Homo sapiens: one gene and its partners. The protein of the gene in region 4 purifies or fractionates together with the protein of the main gene of each other region. This does not show direct contact. Each region holds a gene or a part of one and is shown on either strand. Other genes may lie near its edges. The genes, in order: MTCH2, AP3S1, NPLOC4, SLC38A6, CNNM1, UBAC2 and TF.

Region 1 (3,500 bases), on a different chromosome or scaffold from region 4:
GGTGAAACCGTCTCTACTAAAAAATACAAAGAAAAAAAATTAGCCGGGCATGATGGCGGGTGCCTGTAGTCCCAGCTACTTGGGAGGCTGAGGCAGGAGAATGGCGTGAACCCGGGAGGCGGAGCTTGCAGTGAACCGAGTTCGCGCCACTGCACTCCAGCGTGGGTGACAGAGCAAGACTGTCCTAAAAAAAAAAAAAAAATGCAAAAGCCAATGGTAGACCTGCTTACATTTGCAATCCCAGAACCTAAATGCAAAGATTATAATTTAATTTTCTTTATTACTTCCTTACAGAGCCCTAGAGTAGAAAGATAAACTAGGAAAAACACAGCAGCTCTAAGATACTGCACAGTTACTGGGTTGTAGTCACAAAACAAAATTGTTCTCTTCTCCCAAAAATGTGAGTAGAGACTAAATGGAGCCTGTCATTTATCTAGAATGATGTCAGACTCTCCAAAATCACTTACCAATAAGAGAGCAACTTAATAATCTCAATAAAGGCCTCATATTTTTTATTTCAGCTTAATGACTTTGTTGGTGACCTTTCCTGTTTCTTTATTTTTTTCTCTTACCTGTAAAATTGAGAAAACAACAGAAGCCTGCTTTGCAGAGAAATTTTGAGAAGTAACTATAATAGAACATTGAGATCCATGAGTGAAAAGTATGATAAAATGACAATGAATGAGATCTTTCACATCCCATTCAAACTCTTCTTGACTCCAGCCAGGGCAGGAGGGCTGTGTCATTCACTTTCTTATCCTATACCACGATATCCACCCACATTCCTTCTCACAGGCATTTGAGTGTCATTTGTTTAGATTTCAGAAGTGTGTGTTGATTGTTTCTAGACAACTCGAGAGATGATCGCTCGTTCTGCTGCTACCCTCATCACACATCCCTTCCATGGTATGTTTGCAGTTGACAACTGACCTTTCTTTTATAACCTGATCTCTCCTGACCACTTAGATAGGTTGACGTGGGAGTTGACTAAAATGCCTTGCCTGCATGTTTTTGTTTGCTTGCTTGTTTTGGCTTTTATCCAATTTATCCAGATAGCAAAATGTCTTTAGGTGGAAAATCTTTTTTTTTCCCAGGGCTATCAAAATCTATCTTAACATAGTTTTTTTTTGTTTGTTTGTTTTTTGTTTTTGAGACGGAGTTTCACTCTTGTTGCCCAGGCTGGAGTGCAATGGCACAATCTTGGCTCACTGCAACCTCAGCCTTCCGGGTTCAAGCAGTACTCCTGTCTCAGCCTCCTAAGGAGCTGGGATTACAGGTGCATGCCACCACGCCTGGATAATTTTTGTATTTTTAGTAGAGATGGGGCTTCATCATATTGGTCAGGCTAGTCTTGAACTCCTGACCTCAGGTGATCCGCCCACCTCGGCCTCTCAAAGTGCTGGGATTACAGGTGTGAGCCACCGCACCTGGCCTTAACATAGTTGTAAACATCTTTTCTCTATATTCCACAGTGATCACTCTGAGATCTATGGTACAGTTCATTGGCAGAGAATCCAAGTACTGGTAAGTATTTTTGTTTTCACATACTCAAGGAGATCTTTTGAAGCCAAAGTACTAGAATAATACTACTTTGTATTTTTATGATACCCTTACAATTTGTAGAACAAATTCGTATCTGATGTCATTTGATCTGCACAAAAAACAATAAAATGGGAGAAAATATACCCAGGCAGGTTTAGTAGCCTACGTAGGATTTCAGAGTAAGTTGCAGAGCCCCTGACTCCATATGACTATACCCCTAGGTAGTTAATATTTTCACTTCTATCTCCAAATTTAGCTATCTTTGCAGAGTGAGAGAGTGCTAGAAAAGTGTGAGGGAAGGAGGTCGTGGATTTGACCTTGTCCAATGTGATAATTGAAATTATTTTGTTTATAGCTCCAAAAGAATCTTAATATATTTTACCTTTTCTTCTTGTGTACGTAGTGGACTTTGTGATTCCATAATAACCATCTATCGGGAAGAGGGCATTCTAGGATTTTTCGCGTGAGTAAATGTTGATTAGTGTGTAATTTTTGCATGAGTGGGAAACGTTTTCTGAAAGTAAGAATAGTGAGTCTTTGTTTAATCCTTGGGGAAAACGTACTCCCTGGGCTTACCTCACGTTACATTCTATTTAGGCCCCTTATTTTTTTTTCTTTTTTCTCTGCAGAAAGGCATATTTAGGCCCCATATGACTAGAATTATCTTGTAAAGATCCCAAACCTTTACTTCTAGATACTTAAAACATTTGAGGCCGGGCGTGGTGGCTCACGCCTGTAATCCCAGCACTTTGAGAGGCCAAGGCGGTTGGATCACCTGAGGTCAGGAGTTCAAGACCAGCCTGGCCAACATGGTAAAACCCCACCTCTAGGTGTGGTGGTGTGTGCCTGTAATCCCAGCTACTCGGGAGGCTGAGGCAGGAGAATTGCATGAACCCGGGAGGTGGAAGTTGCAGTGAGCTGAGATTGCACCACTGTACTCCAGCCCGGGTGACAGAGTGAGACTCCGTCTCAAAAAAATAATAATAATTAATAAATAAATAAGGAATTTCTTTTTTTAACAAAGGACTTAATTCCAAGTTTCTACCCTTGTAGTAAACTCCCAATTCTATATAGATAATAAAATGAGAAAAATTAAATGTTGAAAAATGGGGAAATCATCTTAACTTGTATTTTCCTTACCGTAAAAGAGTAAGTTTTTGCAAGGCTTGAATTTACTTTGGAAGAACTTAGACTACTACCCTCATTCTTCTATGAGGAAAAATTTTGCATCATTACCGAAATGGTGTTTTTTGTTTTTTTTTTTTTAATTTTCAGAGTATCTCCCCATACGGATTTTGAATATCATAAATACCCTGTGAGATAGGCAGGACAGCTATAATTAGTATCACTTTAGAGATTAAAAAACATTGATGCTCTGAGAGTTTCATCTGCTGCCTGTCACATCGCTGCTGAGTGCTGGAGCTGGCATTTGAAGCTGGTCTTCAATCCGTGGGGAAATGCTCTTCCCACTATTCCATGCTGCCTCACCTAGGTCACCCAGACCCTAGAAATGTGGTTTTTGATGCCTCTCATCTGTATCTGTACTTGGGACCATTCTTGCTTTGTAATTTTTCTCGTCTTTTGCTCTGCCAAATATGAATATCAGATAGCTTAGCAAAATCATTTTTTTAAGCTAGTCAAAGCAAAACAATATTTAAGTCTCTTCTGCAAAGCACCTCGCAAATCTTTTGCCTCCCTGCTTACAGTTATGAATAGTAAGGTGAGCCACTGAGGGTATAGCCGACCTGCATTTTAAACATAGGAACAAAAGTCACTGGAGATCAGCTTCAAGTACAGCTGTGTTAACGAGAATGAACTAGGTATGCGGGCTGGATTCTGGTGTTTGATTCCTTTTTTACTTCCCTAGAATGTTTTGTGACCTCTAATTATTTGACAAACATTTGTACTGAAGAGCCTGTCATGTTACTGATCACATTTTTTGGTTCTTATTTTTATTG
Region 2 (3,500 bases), on a different chromosome or scaffold from region 4:
GCTTGCTTCTCTGACAGAGATCAGTGAGAGATCTCATTATAAAAATATGTGTCTAATAATTAATGTTGATTCACTGTTTTAAATTTTTATATTTTTGTTTGTTTGCTCTTACCAACACAGTTTCATTTATCACTGTCATATGTATATCAGGCACCAGTCTCTTTTATGGTTTTCCTAACTTAATTTCTCATTCTTTCCTTCCTCTAACTTTCAATTCTTTATTTTCTTGCAGAACTGCGAAAATTAATGTATATAATATGTTCTCATTTGTGTAAATTAGATATGCATATACACACGTATAACAAGTATGTGCACAGCAAGTTTTCTAGGATACCTAAGATATAGCTAGCTGAGTAGCTTTGGATAAAGGGACCTAAAAACGGATGCAGAGTGTGGTAGAGACTATTGTTGTTCATACATAAGTTTCTGTATGAACTTTTAGTCATTTGCCTATATTCTTTTTTTTTTTTTTTTTTTTTAAGTTACGGTAGTTTTCAAAACACTGTCATGTCTGGTTTGGTTTGGTTGGCTAGGAAGATTAATTTATATAAATTTGTCTTCAGAATTTGTGCATGAGGTGTCCATGCTTCCAAAATGAAAAATAGTAAATAATGATGACTTTTTTTTTTTTTTTAATTGAGGCAGGGTCTCACTCTGTTGCCCATGCTAGAGTGCAGTAGTGTGATTTCAGCTCACTGCACCCTCCACTTCCCGGGCTCAGGCAGTCCTCCTGGGTCAGCCTCCCGAGTAGCTGGAAGTACAGACGTGAGGCACTATGCCTGGCTAATTGTCTGCATTTTTTGTAAAGGCAGGGTTTTGCCATATTGCCAGTGATCTGTCCACCTTGTCCTCCCAAAGTGTTGGGATTACAGGTGTGAGCCACCATACCCAGCCTCCAGGGATATTTTTTAAATTATGAATAAATTTGCGTGAAATCTTACAAAGAAATTTAAATTGAGTAATACATATTTAACTCCTAAAAAGAGTTTGTTGAAAAAAAAATTACCGTATAATACCTAGTGGTTCTATGCTAAGCACTTACATAAATTATTTATTTAATTGTTATGGTAATCCTATGAGGTGCCTATATTATTTCTGTCTCTATTTCGTAAATAAGGTAACAGACTCAGAGAGCTGAAGTAACTGCTCAAGGGCTACAAGTAATAAGTGGTAGAGTCTGTATTCATACTTATCTAATTTTGGAGTCTCCATTTCTAACCTTACCACATTATTTTAAAAAAATTATAGCAGAATAGATTCTTCTGTGAAATGTAATTCAGTTCTGAATTGTTGATTTTTTGATCCAATAATACCTTATGAAAAGACAGAAGTTATATTTTTACTCCCCAATGGAAGACATCATTTTTAGTCATTGTAAGATGTATTTATTAGAAGAAATCTGAATATTACATGTGTAGAGGATTTGGGGGTAAAAACACTATTAAAGTACCCACAATTTAAAAAATTCTACCTTTTTCCAATCTAGAGCCTGTTAGAAGTACTGTACTACATTGCTTCATTAAGTACCATGAGTGTAAAATAATAACCTAATTATTGTTGGCTAAGAATCTGGCATAAAAGGCTCTTATAAATCATATTTTAGTATTAAACTTCACATAATAATAATAATAATGGTAGTTAATATTTACTAGTCATTTACTTTGTTTTGAGTACTGCATTGGATTACCTTGCTTATTCCTTTCAACAGTCCTATGAAGGTAGTACTATTGTTTTTGTTTTATAGCCCATTAAGCTCAGACTTAAGGAGGTTATATAACTGCCTAGGGCTTCACAGTAGTGATGAAAGTGGATTATGAGCCCTTACTCCAAGTTGTTTTTACCACTCATACTTTTAACATAGACAAAGTGGTATTTGAAACAAAAAGTGAATCATGAAACTTCTTTTTAGTGAATTTTCTTTATGGGTATATATTCTTTTATTCCCTTTAGGTTCACAATATTCTTGCAGAAATGGTGATGGGGGGAATGGTATTGGAGACAAATATGAATGAGATTGTTACACAAATTGATGCACAAAATAAGCTGGAAAAATCTGAGGTAAGAATGGAAAATGCTGTAGTTAAGAAGGTTCTAAGCATGATGACAGATTACGCATGATTTGTAGTTTTCACTGTTTGTCCTTCAGTATCACCCTTTAGGTTCAGCCGTTATGCTTATTCAGTTTTTAAAAAATGGAATATACACGTAGTATGCTAAAGGTTCTGTGACTGTTCTCTACCCAACAGCTTTGTGTATTCTTCTTTTAGCCACAGTCATAGCTGCCTTGGGTAATAAGCACAATTCCAAATCTTATTGCCTAAAAGAATTATCTGAATAATGGAATCTAATATTTGCTTTGTAAAACTTCAGTCGGTAATTATCAAGGAAATCTTAGAACTAATATTTTAAAGATATATAAATTTTGTGTTACAAAACTACTTCTGGAAAGGGAAAGGACAGGAAATGGAATTCTTACAGGGAAGTAAGTAATGTTTCAAGTTATTAATAAATGCAAAATAAATATTTTGAATGTTTGAGTTCACATTCAAAAAAGAAATTCAATACCTTAATCTTTTAATTCTAAATCTTTCCCTAAGATTTCACTGACAAGTTAGTTAAGTCACATATTTTAGACATTAGTACATATATATCCATGGTCTTTATTGCATTCTATAAGATCGGTTTGTTATACTTAGCTAACTTTCTGCTGTTAGATTCAACCTTAGATGGGATAAATGAGGAACAGCCAGCACTTTAGCATTGTATAAAACCCTACTTCAGAATTGTAGTGACTCTTCCCTCAAGCACTAGTCTGAATATCAGTAGCAGGTGCTGTAGCTGAGCCACCTGGGTTCACATTATTTTGGTTGTTTATTACCCTAGCAGAGGTTTAGAAAGATCAGTAGTTTTATCATTTGAGTTCAGGAGTTCGAGACTAGCCTGGCCAACATGGTGAAACCCCATCTCTACTAAAAAAATAAAAATAAAAAATAAATAAATTAGCTGGGCACGTAGAGCGCACCTGTAATCCCAGCTACTCGGGAGGCTGAGGCACAAGAATCACTTGAACCCCGGAGGTGGAGGTTGCAGTGAGCCGAGATCACATCACTGCACTCCTGGGCAACAGAGTAAAACTTCATCTCAAAAAAAAAAAGAAAGATCAATAATTTTGATATCTCATTCACCACCCAACTTGTTTGAGGATACTCTTACATTTGGTATTTGCAGTCATAACTCAGATTGGAAAAAACAGACTTTATTTTTATAATTATTAGTGTTAAGCTCAGATGTTTCGTTGATTTAAAGTAAATATTACTTTGAAAGCATCAAGGTTTTAAAAATACACTGGCATTAATTTACAACAGGTGAGTTCTGAAAAATTTTACCTTGTTGGCATTTTAAAGGATCAGTTTAACTCAATTCAATTCTGTGTCCATTTTAATTGAAGAAAACACAGGGTGAAGAATAAATCTCAAATCTAGAAACAGTTGAAGCTTATA
Region 3 (3,500 bases), on a different chromosome or scaffold from region 4:
GGCTCACGTCTGTAATTGTAGCACTTTGGGAGGCCAAGGCGGTGGATCACTTGAGCTCAGAAGTTCAAGACCAGTGGGCAACATGGGGAAACCCCATCTCTACTAAAAATACAAGTTAGCCAGGCATGGTGGCGTACGCCTATGGTCTCAGCTACTTGGGGAGCTGAGGCACGAGGATCACTTAAACCAGGGAGGTCGAGGCTACAGTGAGCCAAGATGGTGCCACTGCACTCCAGCATTGGTGACAAAGTGAGACCCTGTCTCAAAAAAAGAGATTAGGCTGGGCACAGTGGCTCCTGCCTGTAATCCCAGCACTTTGGGAGGCCAATGCGGGCAGATCACCTGAGGTCAGGAGTTCGAGACCAGCCTGGCCAACATGGTGAAACCCCGTCTCTACTAAAAATACAAAAATTAGCTGGGCGTGGTGGCGGGCACCTGTAATCCCAGCTACCCGGGAGGCTGAGGCAGGAGAATCGCTTGAACCCAGGAGGCAGAGGTTGCAGTGAGCCAAGATCGTGCCATTGCGTGACGAAGAGCAAGACTTCGTCTCAAAAAAAAAGTAAAAATTTAAACTTAAAAAAGAAATTAAAATTAAAAGCAATAAAGGTCTTTAATGGTAAAATTTAGTAGGGTTTTGAAAAAATATTTTCAGCTGGGCACAGTGGCTCACACCTATAATCTGTGCACTTCAGGAGACCAAGGCAGGAAGATCTCTTTAGCCTAGGAATTCGAGATCAGCCTGGCCAACACAGCGAGACCCCATCCTAATTTAATAACGTGTGTGTGCATATATGCATATTAAAGTGTACATATATATATATATATTTTTTTTTTTTTTTTTTTTTTTTTTCCCCCACGGCAAGCCTAAAAAGGTTGGCAGATCTGGAAGACTACTGGACAAAGGGCATTACTTTCTAAGACAACTTGATGTTTATGCTGATGAAAGCCATCGTGAAGGTGAGTTATCATGCCTGGCCAACAGCACAGGCCCCTGCTTTAGACAAGGAGGATGACATGGCATGCTCTGCAGCAAACAAAGACCTGCTCCAACCATCCGCGGGACGGGAAGGAAGGCAGACAGGAACATGCGCATAAGTGTCCTAGCTTCTCCTCTCAGCAAAGACTGATGGTGCATTCTATAGCTTCTTTCTCTCTCATTTCCTGCATTACCATCTCTTGTATTTAGCTCATTTTTTTTTTCCCCGAGATGAAGTTTCAATCTTGTGGCCCAGGCTGGAGTACAATGGCGCAATCTTGGCTCACTGCAACCTCTGCCTCTTGAGTTCAAGTGATTCTCCTGCCTCAGCCTCCTGAGTAGCTGGAATCACAGGCGCCCACCACCATACCCAGCTAATTTTCTTTTTTTTGAGACAGTCTTTTTCCGTTGCCCAGGGTGGAGTGCAGTGGCGCAATCTCGGCTCACTGCAACCTCCACTCACTGCAACCTCCGCCTCCCAGGTTCAGGCGATTCTCCTGTCTCAGCCTCCTGAGCAGCTGGGATTACAGGCGTGCACCACCAAGCCCAGCTAATTTTTGTATTTTTAGTAGAGACGGGGTTTCAACATGTTAGTCAATCTGGTCTTAAACGCCTACCTCAGGTGATCCACCTGCCTCAGCCTCCTAAAGTGCTGGGATTATAGGCATGAGCCACCAACCCTGGCCTAGCTGATTTTTTATAGTGAAACATTTCAATTCCCTTATTTCCTTTTTTATTTCTTTTTTTTTTTTCAGCTCTTGTTGCCCAGGCTGGAGTGCAATGGCGTGATCTCGGCTCACTGCAACCTCTGCCTCCCCGGTTCAAGTGATTCTCCTGTCTCAGCCTCCTGAGTATCTGGGATTACAAGTGCCTGCCACCACGCCTGGCTAATTTTTAGTATTTTTAGTAGAGATGGGATTTCACCACGTTGGCCAGGCTGGTCTCGAACTCCTGACCTCAAGTTATCCACCCACCTGGGCCTCCCAAAGTGCTGGGATTACAGGTGTGCACCACCACACCCGGCCTCCCTTATTTCCTTTTTCATAAATTCTATAACTATTTTCTGTGAGGTTACCACGAGTGTTACATTAAACATCCTCTTCAACCATTATGCAGATGAAAACTGTCACAAGCCATTGTCTAAAAAAGATTTCCACTGATACAGGACAAAACACCATAAAGGCTCAGTCTACTGGGATTTGTCCGCTTTTAGTAAAGTAACTAAGCCTAATCTAGATTTTCCTAAAATAGGATAACCCTGTCCTGCATTTTCCCATAACTTTCACTTGGCAGAAAAGGCTCCACCCAATATGTTCTCAACTTTTAAGTCAGGAGATTGAGACCATCCTGGCTAACACGGTGAAACCCCATCTCTACTAAAAATACAAAACATTAGCCAGGCGTGGTGGAGGGCGCCTGTAGTCCCAGCTACTTGGGAGGCTGAGGTAGGAGAATGGCGTGAACCCAGGAGGCAGAGCTTGTGGTGAGCAGATCGCGCCACTGCACTCCAGCCTGGGTGACAGAGCAAGACTCCGTCTCAAAAAAAAAAAAAAAAAGAAAAGAAATACAATTCTTTATACTTCTAACGTCTAGTATACTTCATTCTAGATTCAATACCCCAGAAAAACGTTTTCACAATATATAGCATTAGGTAAATACTTCCACTTATTTGTTTCTAAAATCTGTCTGCCAACACTTAGCTATCTTAAAAAGGAAAGCTCTGTTCTAATGAAGGGGAACATGTGAATGTTCCTTCAAACGATGACTCTGGAACAAGAGCATGTTACCGCCATTCTTTACAGAGCTAAATGGTTCAGGCTGCAGAATTCTAAGGTGAAGAAGTCATCCTACTTGATCCTCTACCACAGAAGATGGGAGTCCAGGTTTCCAAGGCCAACTCCAGTATTTAACAAGAGACAAACATAATTTGTACGATGGAAAGTTCTGGCCTAGCCTCTGACACAGACTACAAAATGAAATACACAGGAAGAGACAGACCTGACAACATGAACACACAGCCTCTTGGTAACTTAAGTTTCCCTATTTATAAGAAAATAAGACTAGAACGCTTCTTGGGGAAGTTGAAGAACTGGTGAGATACAGTTAAATCCACAGAAACTCTTTTCTCCCCCCAAGACAGAGTCTTGCTCTGTCACCCAGAGTGGGAGTGCGATGGCGCGACCTCGGTTCACTGCAACCTTTGCCTGCCGAGTTCAAGCAATTCTCTTGCCTCAAGCCTCCCAAGTAGCTGGGATTATAGGCGCCCGCCACCGCGCCCAGCTAATTTTTTTTTTTTTTTTAAGAGTCTCACTCTGTCACCCAGGCTGGAGTGCAGTGGTGCGATCTCGGCTCACTGCAATCTCCGCCTCCCGGGTTCTAACTTTTCTGCCTCAGCCTCCTGAGTGGCTGGGACTACAGGTGCACGCCACCACGCCCGGTTAATTTTTTGTATTTTTTTTTTTTAGTAGACGTGGGGTTTCACCGTGTTGCCCAGGCTGGTCTCAAACTCCTGAGCTCAGGCAAT
Region 4 (2,943 bases):
GTGTTGTTGAATTTAGTCCCCATGATAACAATATTAATACGCAGGTAGGTCCAAAAGTGTTAAATGATTTGCCTAAGATCACATAACACAAAGGGGCAGTGCCATACACCTACTTCTTTTTGGTGCTAGAGACAGCATCTTTTCCTCAATACCACAACGTTTTCTAGAATCTCAGAGCTTGGTGCATGTTACGTTTCATCTGTGGATTCATGTTTTATGAAAAAAAGAGAAGTGTTAGGGAAATGTCTTACTTAGTAGGCCAGTGTGTGGTGGTCAGCAATAGGATTTATACATGCCGACCAAGCTTTGCTCCAGTGTTCTTGCATTCTCACAATGTCTCCCTAACCTCAACCCAGACAAGGGGAAAGAAGACTGAGGGTGCTCAGAAACACTGGATATCAGTGTTTTGTGGGAAAATATCAGTTTGTACTTAAAATAGAATGGTGCCTTTTAATTTGAGAGTGTTTCAGAAAGGATACTTTGAGGGAAACCAAAAACAAAAGGAAACATACCTCTGTTCTCAGGGAACTTTAAGAAGAGATGAGATGAATACACATAGCTATGATAGAAAGTGTGATATACACATGTAAGTGGCCAGAGAGTTCTAAACAAGAGCTATGGAGATTCTAAACTGTGATGACATAGAACATGTTCAAACCCCACCAGTAACTAGCAACTTACACTGAGTCTCTCAGTTCCTACATCTTTAAAATGGGGATGGCCATATACTAAACTATAGGGTTACTGAGAACATTACATGAGTCAATGAATGTGTGCTGATGTTCAAAGATGTGGGGGAAGAGATTCTCTAGAAGCAAGGAGCAGCACAAACAAAGCAAAGGGAATGTGCATCTGAGAAAATAAGTGGTCTAGTAAGTACTACAGTGGATGAAACAGTGTGTGGGTGATAGGGCTGGAAATGCATTTCAGACCTAGTAATACAGTTCTGCATGAGATGTGGCCTCAACCTGGTAGGCCACAGAAATGCAATAATGACTTACAAAGAACAGTGTATTATGATCTGAACTAAAGCAGGAGTACGGATTGGAAGAAAAAGAGACCCCAAACAGGCATAACAGCTACTGTTACAATCACTGAGAGGTAAAGAGAATCTGAACTAGACTAGTGATAATGGAAACAGGAGAGAAATGAATTGTCCAAAGTATCAAAAACATACTTTACACAATGTGGGATTTGGACTAAGTAGGAGACTAAGAAGAGCCAGGAAATCTGGATTCTATTTCCAAATCTGTGAGATACTTGTGAGTCTTTGGAGAAATATGGCAAACTATTTTATTTCCATTTTCTGAATCATAAAATGAGCTATTAACACTTCTTGCTTAACAACCTCATAGACTTTTTAAATGGCCTGGTTATTATGCAACATTTGGGCACTGGCCTGGCTCACCAGAGGAACCCTTTTCTCTTCCTTTCACAGCTGTAATCAGAGCAAGTATCATTAATCTAGGTACATACCTATAAGTCCCTTTAATCTGACAAATTTAGAAATTAAACTTTAGGAGCTCTGGATAAAAGGATCCAAAGCAGCTCCTGAATCTTGAAGAACTAGATTTATTACAAATTCAAAATAGATGTCACATGTCCACTTTCTACTTTCCCAGGATGAAAACACTTCTTCTGAGCCAGTCACTCTGTGTTCTTAACTGAGCCATAACATATGTGAGGGATAGAGTGGTGCATGCTTCCCTGGATTCAGACAAATCTCTACAAATCTCAGAAAGGGCCTAATGGTGATCTCTGCAAGTTATATATGCCATTGAAGTCAGGAGGCTGTCCTGTTTAATACACATTGTCAAACAGGGTATTAAGTTTACAAAGATTATCACAAAGTAGCAGAAATAACACTGGATTAGTATTCAGGAAACCTGCCTTTAATTCTGTGACAGGTCACTTCACCTCTCTGGGCTTTAGTTGTTCATCTGTAAAATGAATTGGAAGCCTTAAGTTGAGGCTAGCCCTTATAAGATCTCAGGTTCAACCAGCAATTTCTTCCTATGACACAAAGCTCCTGTTATCCTGGTAGAAAGATATGATCAAAGGTTTTTCTTGGTTATGATTCACAATCCAAGAGCAAATCAATATCTGCCTCTTCTGTCTTTGGAGAAGAACTTACTACTTTTGTATCATTTATTCTATTTATGTATGTATGTATGTATGTATGTATGTATGTATGTATGTATGTATGTATGTATCTATCTATCTATCTATCTAATCTATCATCTATTCATCCACCCATCTATCTGCCTACCCACCTACCTATTAATCAATCATATACCTACCTACCATGTGATTTTCTTAGATGTGTATTTCTCTATTATATAAAATTTGCATACTCTGAAGAATTTGCATTAGTGGAGAAGAGATTAAATCAGAGACAACATAATGGTTTTACTTGATATTAGACAAATCCCTGTCTAGGAAACATGCCATCTACATGATGAAAACCTTTAGCCTTTGTGTTCAAGCAGCAATGTTAGATAGATAGATTATACATAGATACATACATAGATAGATGCCTAGAGCTTAAGTGAGTCATATTTTTCTAAAAGATCACCTTAACAAAAACTTGGAATAAAGGAAATCTGGCTTCTATAGCACAATTTCTGAGTAGACAACACAGTAATAAAGGCATTGGCTTTGGAGAGAGACAAAACTAGATTCAAATCCCAATTCCACTATTAACTGGCTTCAAGTATCTGGTCTAATTACTCAACCTAAATGAACCTACACTGAGCTTGCAGAATTGTTATAAGGATTAAGTTAGGGAGTATATATAAAATACCTGACACTGTCTTAAATGTTAGCTCAATAAATGTATTAGCTTCCATCCTTCCTCCACATCCCTTTCAATCTAATACAGCTACAATTTAATACAGTTTCTAAGCACCTAATGGTGATTCATCTAACAATTTCTCAGCCAGC
Region 5 (3,500 bases), on a different chromosome or scaffold from region 4:
GTGAGCCGAGGCCATTGCACTCCACCTGAGCGGCAAGAGTGAGACTCTGTCTTCAAAAAAAAAAAAAAAAGGAAAAAAAAGAGTGTTATTCAAAAACCTCTTTAGGCCAGGCGCGGTGGCTCACACCTGTAATCCCAGCACTTTGGGAGGCTGAGGCAGGCAGATCACTTGAGGTCAGGAGTTCAAGACCACTCTGGCCAACATGGCGAAACCCCATCTCTACTAAAAATAAAAAAATTACCCAGTCATGGTGGCAGGCACCTGTAATCCCAGCTACTCGGGAGGCTGAGGCAGGAGAATTGCTTGAACCCAGGAGGCGGAGGTTGCGGTGAGCCGAGATCGGCGCCACTGCACTCCAGCCTGGGCGACAAGAGCGAAACTCCGTCTCAAAAAAAAAAACCAAAAAACAAAAAAAAAACTTTGATTAAAATGGGTAGTTCTCCAAAAAGGAATTCTGTGAGTTCAAGCTCTTTTTTTTAACACAAGTGTCTTTTTTGTTTTGATTTTCTCTTTTCTTTTTTTTTTAATATAAGATTCTGCCTTAGATTAACTTTGAAAATTACCTCCTCCTGATTGATTAGACTGTGTTAGGGACGTTATTTAGGCCACTCATTTATCTACTTCCCTCACCTGTCTCTCCCCATCTTTCCTTCTGTTGTTATTGTGTTTTTTAACATGAGGGTTTTGGGGGAAGCTAAAGAGAAGACTGCAAGATGAGTGTTTTCACAGGGCGAAGCCCCTGTGGTTGGCTGCTGGAAGGTTTCTCAAGGGCTTTTTATATCCAACAGACTGAAGGTCCAGAATTAAGTCCAGGAGTAATTGAACTTCAAGATAAGTTACAAAATGAGATAGAAAGGTGCATCTAATAGTTATCTGGGAAAGGTGTTAAACAAAGCCATGATTAATGGTAGTTAATAAGTTATGAAGGTACCAAAGAATTCTTATGAAGTAAGTTTTTTGAAATGTGTTCTGTGTCATCATTAAGCTAAGACTACTTGGCAGATGTCTTACAGTCTGGACTACGTAACCTTGACCAAGATTCCTCATCACCCTAGATTGCAGCATTGTGTCTTCAGGGATGAATAAACCACTTGAAAGTGAAAACAACATCATACCATGATAGGAGGCCAGGTGCAGTGGCTCACACCTGTAATCCCACCACTTTGGGAGGCTGAGACAGGAGAATCACTTGAGGCCAGGAGTGTGAGACCAGCCTGGGCAACAAAGTGAGACCCCCATCTCTATAAAAATAAATTTTTAAATTAGCCAGGCATGGTGGCATGCACTTGTAGTCCCAGCTACTTGGGAGGCTGAGGCAGGAAGATTGCTTAAACCCAGGAGTTCAAGGTTACAGTGAGCTGTGATCATGCCACTGCACTCCAGCCTGCACAGCAGAGTGAGACCCTGTCTCTAAAATAAAATGACAGGAGACATCACATTAGCCTAAAGGTTAACTTCTGGACACCTTGGCTGCTAAGTCAAAAAGTCCAGAAAGCCACCCTTGCTTTTCACTACTTTCAGAATAAACAGACCTCCGCTTCCTTTGTAGCTTAGTGGGTGATTGGATTCTAAACTGGCCACTCTATAAGAGAAGACAATTTGAACTAAAGCTGTTGCTAATAAATGGTTATATCTACTGCAATGAAGAGGAAACAAAAACATGGAGTCTGTTGAAAAGTGGCTTGATTCCCTCAGTCAACTAATTGATAAGTATTTGTTAAGCATTAACAATGGTTCTGGGTGCCATGAGCTATACTACAGAAATATAAATCTAATAAAAATATATCCTCTGCCTTATAAGTAGATTAAGACCAGTTAGAGAGAGGAAGCTTAAGGTAAGTTAAATAATAGTGACCAATGCAGGGTACTATCTAATTCATTACAAAATTATGTGGAATTTTTTTTTGTTTTTTGACGGAGTCTCACTCTGTCCCCCAGGCTGGAGTGCAGTGGCGTGATCTTCTACCTCACTGAGTTCAACTCAGTGAACTCACTGCAACCTCCGCCTCCTGAGTTCAAGCGATTCTCCTGCCTCAGCCTCCTGAGTAGTCAGGATTACAGGCATGCGCCACCACGCCTGGCTAATTTTTGTATTTTTAGTAGAGACAAGGTTTCACCATGTTGGTCAGGCTGATCTCGAACTCCTGACCTTGTGATCCGCCCGCCTCGGCCTCCCAAAGTGCTGGGATTACAGGTGTGAGCCACTATCTGGAATTTTTTAAGCACTAATTGGCTGGAGAATGTACTTTAGGAGTTTGGAAAGAACAAGAGGAGAATTAAGGCAATGCCATGCAAAGGGACACCCTTAAACAGGTATGGAAGGCAAGTAGACATGGCGCATTCGAGGGACTGGGTAGAGAGAGAAGCTGGGTGGGACCAGTGGTTCTGTCCTGGTGAGTAGTGGGAGTGCTGTTGGCCCTGCGAGGCCAGGTCATCGAAACTGGGCACAGCTGTTTAGGCCGTCCACTAAACCTTCACCATCCAGTACAGCAGCCAGTAGCCATGTATAAATACAGCCATTTAGTTACATGTGGCTGTTGAATGCATGAAGTGTGTCTCTTTCCAACTGATGTGCTATAAGTGCAAAATACACATTGTATTTCAAGACCAGTGCGAAAAAGAATGTAAAATTCCTCACTAATCACTTTAACTAATCACATGATGATGTGAAATTATTTTGGATATATTGGGTTAAATGAAATATGTTATTAAAATTAACTTGTTTTTACTTTTTAAAATGTGACTACTAGAAAACTTTGAATTACCGACGGGACTCACGTTACATTTCTCTTCAACAGTATTACGCTAGATTAAAATAAGTTGTCATGAGTTGTTGAACAAGGGGAAGGAACTGACAAGAAGTGATACCCGAACCTAGAAATGCCTCTGGGAGAGGCAGAGCAGAGTTGCTTCCCTGGATACATTGGCACCTTGTCAACAATTTCTTTTAAGGCAACACATTGACATGGCAGGAGTTCATGATTTAAAAAAAAATTTTTTTTAAAAAGAGAGCTGTGTGAAAGAAAGCAAGGCTGTTAAGGCTGTGAGTCACATAGAGGATTTAGCCATTGGGTGGTACCTTTCCTTTTATATAAACACCCACCAACAGTGCAGACCCTCTCCAGCCCCTCCCCCTCCCCACCCTCACTGCCATACACTGCCGTGCTTCTTCCCACTAGTGTGGCCGTCTGAATCTTCTCTTTAGCATCACTGACAAGTGGTGGCTTAACATCTGTGTGAATGCCTCCAATGATGAGGAACTCGGTACCTCACGAGGAAGTGTGTCCCATTCACTCAGTATTGTTACCAAAAATACTTTCTTCCCGTCCTTTCCTCCCTGACAATGCTTAAAAAGAGGGTTAGAGTTCCTGGATCCTTGATTCCAGGTAACAAGAGGGGCTTATCATTGTTTTTTAAAAACAAAAAGAGGCCGGGTGCAGTGGCTAACACCTGTAATCCCAGCACTTTGGGAGGCTGAGGAGGGTGATGTCACCTGAGGT
Region 6 (3,500 bases), on a different chromosome or scaffold from region 4:
GTGCATGCACACAAATACGGCAGATAATTTCCAGTGGTGGTTTAACAAAAGAGTTCTCTACGTGGTGATTTATCATACTTATGTGAAGAAAACTGAGACACAGCTGAGTGAAGAAGTTCAGCAGGAGGCTAAGTGCTCAGGTTTGGGTGTACCCATGTGCGGACCCTAGAAGAGAACTTAGGAAGCTTAGGAAAAAATCAAGAGTCTGGTCTGTGCTGCCCAGCAGACCACTCAACGTAAAAGCCCAGCAAGAGCCCAGGGGCTGGTGTCCTGCTCTGGACTTCAGATCTGTTAGTGAGACCATCCTATGAAAGTGGAGGAGTCTGACAGCAGTGTAGACAGCCATAAAGGCCTGTGCCACTTCACAGGCGCCTGGTGGGAATGCACGCTCCAGCAGGGCAGGGGTTTGGGTCTGTCTCATTCCCTGAGGCCTGGGTACAACCTGGCAGATCCCGTGATGTTCCAAGTATCTGGGGGGAAAGACACCGTGCGGAGTTTACAGCAAGGCAGGAAAGGAGAACCACAATGGGGGTCCGTAGAATCCTGGAGCGAGGGCGTGCGCAAACAGCCAAGAATCCCACTTGCATAAACTGCTGCTGCACCATGAAGTGCCTGTCTGTAGGCCACAAAGTGAGCATGTGGTCAGCAGTGGAGACCCACCAAGTTACCAAGCCAGGTGGGCCGACAGAAACCCATCATCAGATGGACACGGGCATCTGGGCTCAGCATAGGTGGGGCTGCAGGGCATGGGTGAGCTGCAGAAGCAGGCATGCCAGACCACCCTGGCAGCCACCTCTGCTGCACCACAGCCTCTTCCCAGCTAACACCGACTACCACAGCTGGTGGGCCCCTCATGACCAAGTGACAGAGGGGAAAACAGCCAAATGGACAGGCTGGCTCAGGACATGAGTGGCAGCTGAAAGAAACGGCTGCATGATGGCTCAATCTTGAAAGACAGCGATCAGGGGAACCCCCTATGGGCAGAGCCTGGGCAGCACATTTGGTCATCAACTCTGTGTGAAGAGAAGTGGCCTGAGGCAATTACACGTGTGGATCTGCTGGGCATGGCAGATCACCTGGTTGGTCGGTCAGGGGACTGGAAGGGAGGGAACAAGGAGGATCCAGCTAAAGGAACAGCATCAAGTGTCTTGCAGGTCGTGCCCACCACGGGCATCCACCACAGAAAAGGCACCAAATGGAAGGTGGACAGAATGACTGTGGCTCCATCACCAGATAACCCAGCGCTGGCACACGAATGGATGGCCATGGTGGTAGCACAGAGGAATGTGTGGGTCCCCCTCACCTAGGCCGACCTATCTCCTGCCACTATGGAGCATCCAACCTGGCATCCACAGAGACTGTGTGTGCCTGATAACTACCGTCTGCAAGCAGAACAGTCACTCAGCGCCGAGACTATGCTGGGCCCTTTCCACTCTGCAGTGTTATGGAACACACTGTCTCCCACCCCTTGCCCCTGCCCCAAATTCACACGCTGAAGCCCTAACCCTACGATGTGACTGTATTTAAAGGTAGGAACTTTAAGGAGGTAATTAAGGTTCAAAGAGGTCGTACGCATGGGACTTACCCAACAGGACTGGTCCCCATTTTGGGACAACTCAGAAGGGCTCTCCCAGCTTCACTGTGCTCCATAAGACCAGCGAGGCTTTTGCTGGAACTGCAGCTGCTCCCTCTGTCCCATCTTGCTGCCTTCGCCAGCCCGCCCCCATAGATACTGATGCTGACGGTGTTCTCTCATAAACTCTTTGTATAAAAATCTTCCTGGGGAGGCCAATCTGAGAAATGCAACTTCTCTGGTTTGCTTATGAGGACAAATTCAAAGCTCTCCAATGGAGAATCTCCTCCCAGGATTCCAAAGGTATCTCAGACAACATATTTCCCCCAAATCTGCTCTTTTGATATTGGTGAAATGGAACTATCAGTCATCTATCTAAGATTATCTAGGCCAGAAACATCAGAACCATCCCCTACTTCTTTCTCTCCCTCATAAGCTCTGTGCCTCTACCTTTATACTCAATCACTACTCAGTTTTTCTGACCTTGATCATTCTGATTTCTCATACCTTTCGCTCTTCTCTCAGTTTCCTTGAAGGATTTACCTCCTGCTAAATACGAGGCTTCATCTGTAGCCTGTGTTCATCTTGGATGTAGCTCTTCTCTTACAGAACTTACTACTTCTTTGCTTTCGGCTCTCAGCTCTCATCCCTACAGAGGTGACTCCATCACCTATATATATATGTAGCTTCCACATTTCCAAGACAGAGATGTCCATCCTCCAGCTTTAAATACACCATGGGCATCTTTATGGCATGTTCCAGAGTCACTCAAATTCAAGCACATCTTTAAGAAACAACTTTTGCTTCTCTATTTCTCTTGTAGACTCTGCCCCTAATAAGCTGCCCCCTTCCTCCCCCCCCCTGATATAAACTCTGGGACCTGCATCTCCAATGGGACTCTAAGGACCTCAAACCTGATTTCACTTCTCCAAACCATCGTGAGATCTGCAGACCTACTTCTTGCATCCAATGCTAGTGGAAGACAGAGAGATGGCAGAGGTAACTGTACGGTTTACAACTACCCCAGGGGTAAAGAAGGTGGAGGCGAAAAATGGGGAGCCCTGTGGGCTGGCTCACAGAAGTGTCCAAGAAAGATCAGGCCTGAGGTTTTAGCCTGATGTGCACTAACCCTCCTTCTCTCACTGCCCATGGAAGACAAATGTAGTATCAGATTGTTTGGATGCAGAATTTGTAGACAAATGTGCAATAATTTCTGATTATTGATAGCAAGGTTGAGAAAACACAGCATTTTTTTTTATCTACTCCTTGGTTGTTCCACTGAAAATCTTCTTGCCTTCATATTCTCTTCATTTCAACCAAGGAAAATCAAGAAATTTTACATTTGTTCTTCACTCCATAGCATATGATTAGCATTTTAACAGGAAGACACTGTGGCTTTTACAAGATTATAAAAACAGATAAATAGCACATCTTGTTAACTAGGTTGGTGTTTCTCTAAGAAGTCATGCTTATCTAATATAGGTGGAACAAGAATGTCCAGTTTGACCAATCTTTCAGCTGCAATTTATTTTTTACCTTTTTAAAAAACTAAGAATGGCCACTAACAGAGACCTACAATCTCTTTGGAAATGTCAAAATCCACTTGCAAGGCACTGGAATAAAATGTAGTCTCTATCTCACATGCAATCACAGAGGAAAGATTTGCTTGGGCCACTGAGAATTTCTAAATTTTTAGTGATTATTATCACTTTTACCTGCTGCTGTCTCTGTCGCCTCCCTTGTGCAAACTGAGAGAACATCAGCTGCCGGTCCAGCAGCTCCATTCTCTGCTGTCTCTGGATGTCCAGCGTGGCTCCCATCCCAATTCTGGCTTCGCTGGTGGGTTCTGAAGAAGAGAAGATGGGTTCAAGTGTCCAAGAAAAGAATTTTGCCATCCAGCTGGGGATGCAGAGCACCTGATGCACCT
Region 7 (3,500 bases), on a different chromosome or scaffold from region 4:
TACATGCCGGGCTTAGATTGTTCACTCACCATTTCATTTTGTCCATGTTGTCCTATCCCAAGGGCCACAGCCTACCCCTCCTGTACCCACCCACCATCCCAGCACTCACCACCATGTTTGGTTGCCACTTCCCCATGCTGTTCCTCCTACTCACATGAGGTGGAGCATTTTCTCAGGTTACCAACAGCCTTGACATATTCTTCTCCTAAGTATTTTTCATATGTGTTTCTGTCATGAAGTTTGGCCAAACATACTGTGTCATCTCTGAACAGAAGGTCCTTGGTTTCCGACCGGAACAAACAAAAGTTGCCCGAGCAGTCAGTTACGTTGCTTCCAAATAGGTGCTGTCAAGTGAACAGAAAGTCCGTGAGGACCTTGTGGTCTTTAGCAGCTGGGAACACATGGATGAGAAGAGTCTGAAAGCTCTGAACCAGCCCTGGGGAAAAAGGGAAGCTACGGAGTATGTCTTGGGAATTTTCCACCTCCTTTATCTGCCATTTATCCACTTAGGGCCCCAGCTGCATGCTTTCATGATGCCCCCAAAATCATCTATAGGGTCCCTGGTCCCACCTTCCTCTGATAAGTCCCTCCCACCCACACCCATGCCTGCCTACTCTGACCTCTCTTCCCCACTTCATTGCCCTTCACTGGGGGCTGCTTATAGGAAATGAGAGGACAATAACATGTCCCTTCAGATGTTATTGTCAAAGAAGATGTTAAATGTGAACCCTCCCAGAGGAGTGGCAGAGGTAGTTCTTAAAAGTTCATGTTTGACTGCATTTTGAATCCTTTCTTGGGCAAGCCACTCAGCTTCTCCAGATCTCCAAAGGTTGTAAGTGAAATGATGACTGCAAAATGTTGAACTTTCCATATAGCAGCTAGGAAATGTATGTTAAATGCTTATTATTGTCATGTACCTTAAAAGGACTTCAAATATACTCTTATTTTTTTTAAAAAAAGGTAATGGTGAATCAACAGCAGGCAGCTATGCCCAAAAGGAAGGTGATGTGTGTGTGTGGAGGGGCCTTTAGGATTAGAATACTCAGGCAGCCCCTGTCTTCAACAAGGCTGGCCCTGAGTGGTTGTTCCCCCAGAGGGCAGGCTCTCCGAGGGCAAGGGTCCTGTGTTTTTCAGACTGTTGAGAACAGTGCTCAGTCTGCCTAGGCAAGAGGAACAGAAATCCACTCTTCATGACTCGTATCAACAAGCGCTGGGAAACAGGAGCTGTCTTCTTCATTTTCGGGAAGGACAGGAGTAGGGGAAATGAGGGTACCCCTGAACAAGGTTAGGGGGAGCAGAAAGGCAGATTCCTAGTCCCAAGAGTACATGGATCAGATCTAATCACCAGTGACCAGGAGCTAGAAGCAGAGCTGGGCCTGAGAGGTCTAGTTCCATAATTACACAGCTAACATATTTTGAGCACGTCCTATAGGAAATGGAATTTTCCTATGCCGTTTGGGTGCATGTCTTCACTTAATACTCATGTTAACTGAGAAGTAGGTAAAAATATTATTATTACAATTTTATATATGAGGAAGCTGAGGCATAGAGAGGTTATGTAACATACCCAAGATGGCACAACTAGGAAGCTGTGGAGCTGTGATTTGAACCCTGATACTCTAGTCCACAATGCATGGCATGAAATGCACAATGCATGGAATTCTAGTTTTCAAAAAGAAAGTGCTGGAGTCATGGCTGCACTTTGTTGTAAACTCCCCCCGAATAGCCTATGGCCATCTAGGAAGAAAAGGTGGGAGGACCTGGCTGGTCCATACCTGCTGTTGACGTAATATCTTGTGGACGCAAGCTTCCTTATCTTTCCGTGTGACCACAGCGTGATTCGGGGCTCTGGCCAGGTGGCAGTTCGCATACTCCTCCACAGGTTTCCTGGTACCATCAAGGCACAGCAACTCATAGTCTTTTTCATTCAGATTCTTAGCCCATGGATCAGGGTTTTTTCCTAGGGACAGGAAGAAGGTGGTTCAGCTGATGGCTTTGGTCAAGGTGCCCCGCTGGGGAGATGGAACTGACTCAGTGGTGTGTAGAGAACCTGGGCCTTCTCGCCAGCAGAAGTGCCCACACTGGGGTTACAGTGATGTGGACAGGAAGAGACACCCATGTGGTCTACAAGGTGATGCCAGACTCACAGTGACCAGGAATGATTATTGACCATCCCCTTCCAACCTTCCCTACCCAGCCAGGTGAGAATGAACTACATTCTGCAGATGCTGTTCAAAAAGATCTTCAATTCCACTAAATTCCAATTCCTTCTGTACCTCTTGCTCCAACAGAGGAAGAATGTGACGCTCTAAGCCAGGTTGATCAATTTCTGTGCTGTAACACATGGCATCTCCAAACAAAAGAACTTTTCCTCAGAGAACACCTTTGGAATCTGCACCAGAATTTTAAATCTGACTCCCTTGTTCCAGTTCTAAATGAGAATGTGCACACACCTGTGTGATACAGGTCTGTATCCCATCTCGGCCCCTTTGCCTCTTCTTTTCTGTATTGTCTCTGAAAAAAAAAAAAAACTCACCCATTCTTAGGGTTTCAGCTCCTTCCTCCTGAGCCACTTTGCAAATATGTTTTGCTAATTTTTATTTCTCTCCCATAATTCAGAATTGCAACCTTTTTAAAAATGTATTTTTCATTTAATTTTGTTTCTTTAACCGAATAACTAATACATGAGATCACACTCATAAATTTTTGAATATCTCTCTATATTAACTAAAAGCCTCCTTTCCTATACTCTCCAAATCTCACTCAGTCTTATAGTGCTAGTCTTTAATATCACATTTGCGAGTTTCCATCCACGGCTCATTATATGTATTTTTCTACGTGTGTATATGGATTTCACATGTTTCTAATTTTGTTTAGTGTTAGATCTTGACAAATGTAAAACTCTGTAGCTTTTTTTTCAACTGTTTACATACCTTATAGATTCTTCTTGTCAGTACATACAAATCAAGCTCGTTCTTCTTAACTACTGTATTATATTTCATAGTGTGGCTATAATAGTATCTTTAAACCATTCCTCTTTTAATAGGCATCTGAGGTGTTTACAATTTTTTGCCACTAAAGTAGCGTTAAAATGAGTGTTACTGGCATATAATTGTGCTTACATAGAAGTGGAATAGTTAGTTCAAAGGGTATATGTATTTTTATTTTATTTTATGTTATTTTATTCATTTATCTATGATACTATGTTCTCAGCCCTCTCCAAGGCACAATCTTATTGGAGGGGAAAATAACACACATACCAAAACAAAAAATTCAGGGCAGGGATAATAATATTTTATATTTTGTAAAACACTCTAGATGCTGTGTGAGCTCAAACCAGGGCTTTGAGAACAAATGAATTAAGAAGCTGGCTGGAGGAGGCAAGATTTCAGTTGTCTCTTATAGTGTGTGTAGGATGAGAGGAGGAGAAAGGAATGCCTCTCTGCGGGAGGAAAGGAGAGTGCAGGCGAGACTGGGGGCAGGTGTGTGCCTGGTGTTTC

What was found.
Region 1: the proteins of SLC38A6 (region 4) and MTCH2 purify together in Homo sapiens (affinity purification with mass spectrometry, with the first as the bait; one large-scale study listed by BioGRID). This does not show direct contact.
Region 2: the proteins of SLC38A6 (region 4) and AP3S1 purify together in Homo sapiens (affinity purification with mass spectrometry; one large-scale study listed by BioGRID and IntAct). This does not show direct contact.
Region 3: the proteins of SLC38A6 (region 4) and NPLOC4 purify together in Homo sapiens (affinity purification with mass spectrometry; 2 studies listed by BioGRID and IntAct, with this or other methods). This does not show direct contact.
Region 5: the proteins of SLC38A6 (region 4) and CNNM1 purify together in Homo sapiens (affinity purification with mass spectrometry; one large-scale study listed by BioGRID and IntAct). This does not show direct contact.
Region 6: the proteins of SLC38A6 (region 4) and UBAC2 purify together in Homo sapiens (affinity purification with mass spectrometry; one large-scale study listed by BioGRID and IntAct). This does not show direct contact.
Region 7: the proteins of SLC38A6 (region 4) and TF purify together in Homo sapiens (affinity purification with mass spectrometry; 3 studies listed by BioGRID and IntAct, with this or other methods). This does not show direct contact.

Annotation. Positions count from the first base shown.
Region 1 is NC_000011.10:47,629,060-47,632,559, reverse strand, and holds part of MTCH2 (mitochondrial carrier homolog 2), read left to right. Parts: intron 1-848; coding exon 849-906; intron 907-1,472; coding exon 1,473-1,524; intron 1,525-1,945; coding exon 1,946-2,005; intron 2,006-3,500. UniProt on the Homo sapiens protein: Protein insertase that mediates insertion of transmembrane proteins into the mitochondrial outer membrane. Catalyzes insertion of proteins with alpha-helical transmembrane regions, such as signal-anchored, tail-anchored and multi-pass membrane proteins.
Region 2 is NC_000005.10:115,900,935-115,904,434, forward strand, and holds part of AP3S1 (AP-3 complex subunit sigma-1), read left to right. Parts: intron 1-1,950; coding exon 1,951-2,058; intron 2,059-3,500. UniProt on the Homo sapiens protein: Part of the AP-3 complex, an adaptor-related complex which is not clathrin-associated. The complex is associated with the Golgi region as well as more peripheral structures.
Region 3 is NC_000017.11:81,630,613-81,634,112, forward strand, and holds part of NPLOC4 (nuclear protein localization protein 4 homolog), read right to left. Parts: intron 1-3,500. UniProt on the Homo sapiens protein: The ternary complex containing UFD1, VCP and NPLOC4 binds ubiquitinated proteins and is necessary for the export of misfolded proteins from the ER to the cytoplasm, where they are degraded by the proteasome.
Region 4 is NC_000014.9:61,047,245-61,050,187, reverse strand, and holds part of SLC38A6 (solute carrier family 38 member 6), read right to left. Parts: intron 2,038-2,943; coding exon of another isoform or gene 2,033-2,037; exon of another isoform or gene 1,941-2,032; coding exon of another isoform or gene 1,909-1,940; exon of another isoform or gene 1,891-1,908; intron 873-1,890; exon of another isoform or gene 785-872; intron 200-784; coding exon of another isoform or gene 189-199; exon of another isoform or gene 1-188. UniProt on the Homo sapiens protein: Amino acid transporter with an apparent selectivity for L-glutamine and L-glutamate. May facilitate glutamine uptake in excitatory neurons. The transport mechanism remains to be elucidated.
Region 5 is NC_000010.11:99,381,356-99,384,855, forward strand, and holds part of CNNM1 (metal transporter CNNM1), read left to right. Parts: intron 1-3,500. UniProt on the Homo sapiens protein: Probable metal transporter.
Region 6 is NC_000013.11:99,340,354-99,343,853, reverse strand, and holds part of UBAC2 (ubiquitin-associated domain-containing protein 2 isoform 1 precursor), read right to left. Parts: coding exon 3,289-3,500; intron 1-3,288. UniProt on the Homo sapiens protein: Restricts trafficking of FAF2 from the endoplasmic reticulum to lipid droplets.
Region 7 is NC_000003.12:133,773,893-133,777,392, reverse strand, and holds part of TF (serotransferrin isoform 1 precursor), read right to left. Parts: intron 1,961-3,500; coding exon 1,776-1,960; intron 345-1,775; coding exon 155-344; intron 1-154. UniProt on the Homo sapiens protein: Transferrins are iron binding transport proteins which can bind two Fe(3+) ions in association with the binding of an anion, usually bicarbonate.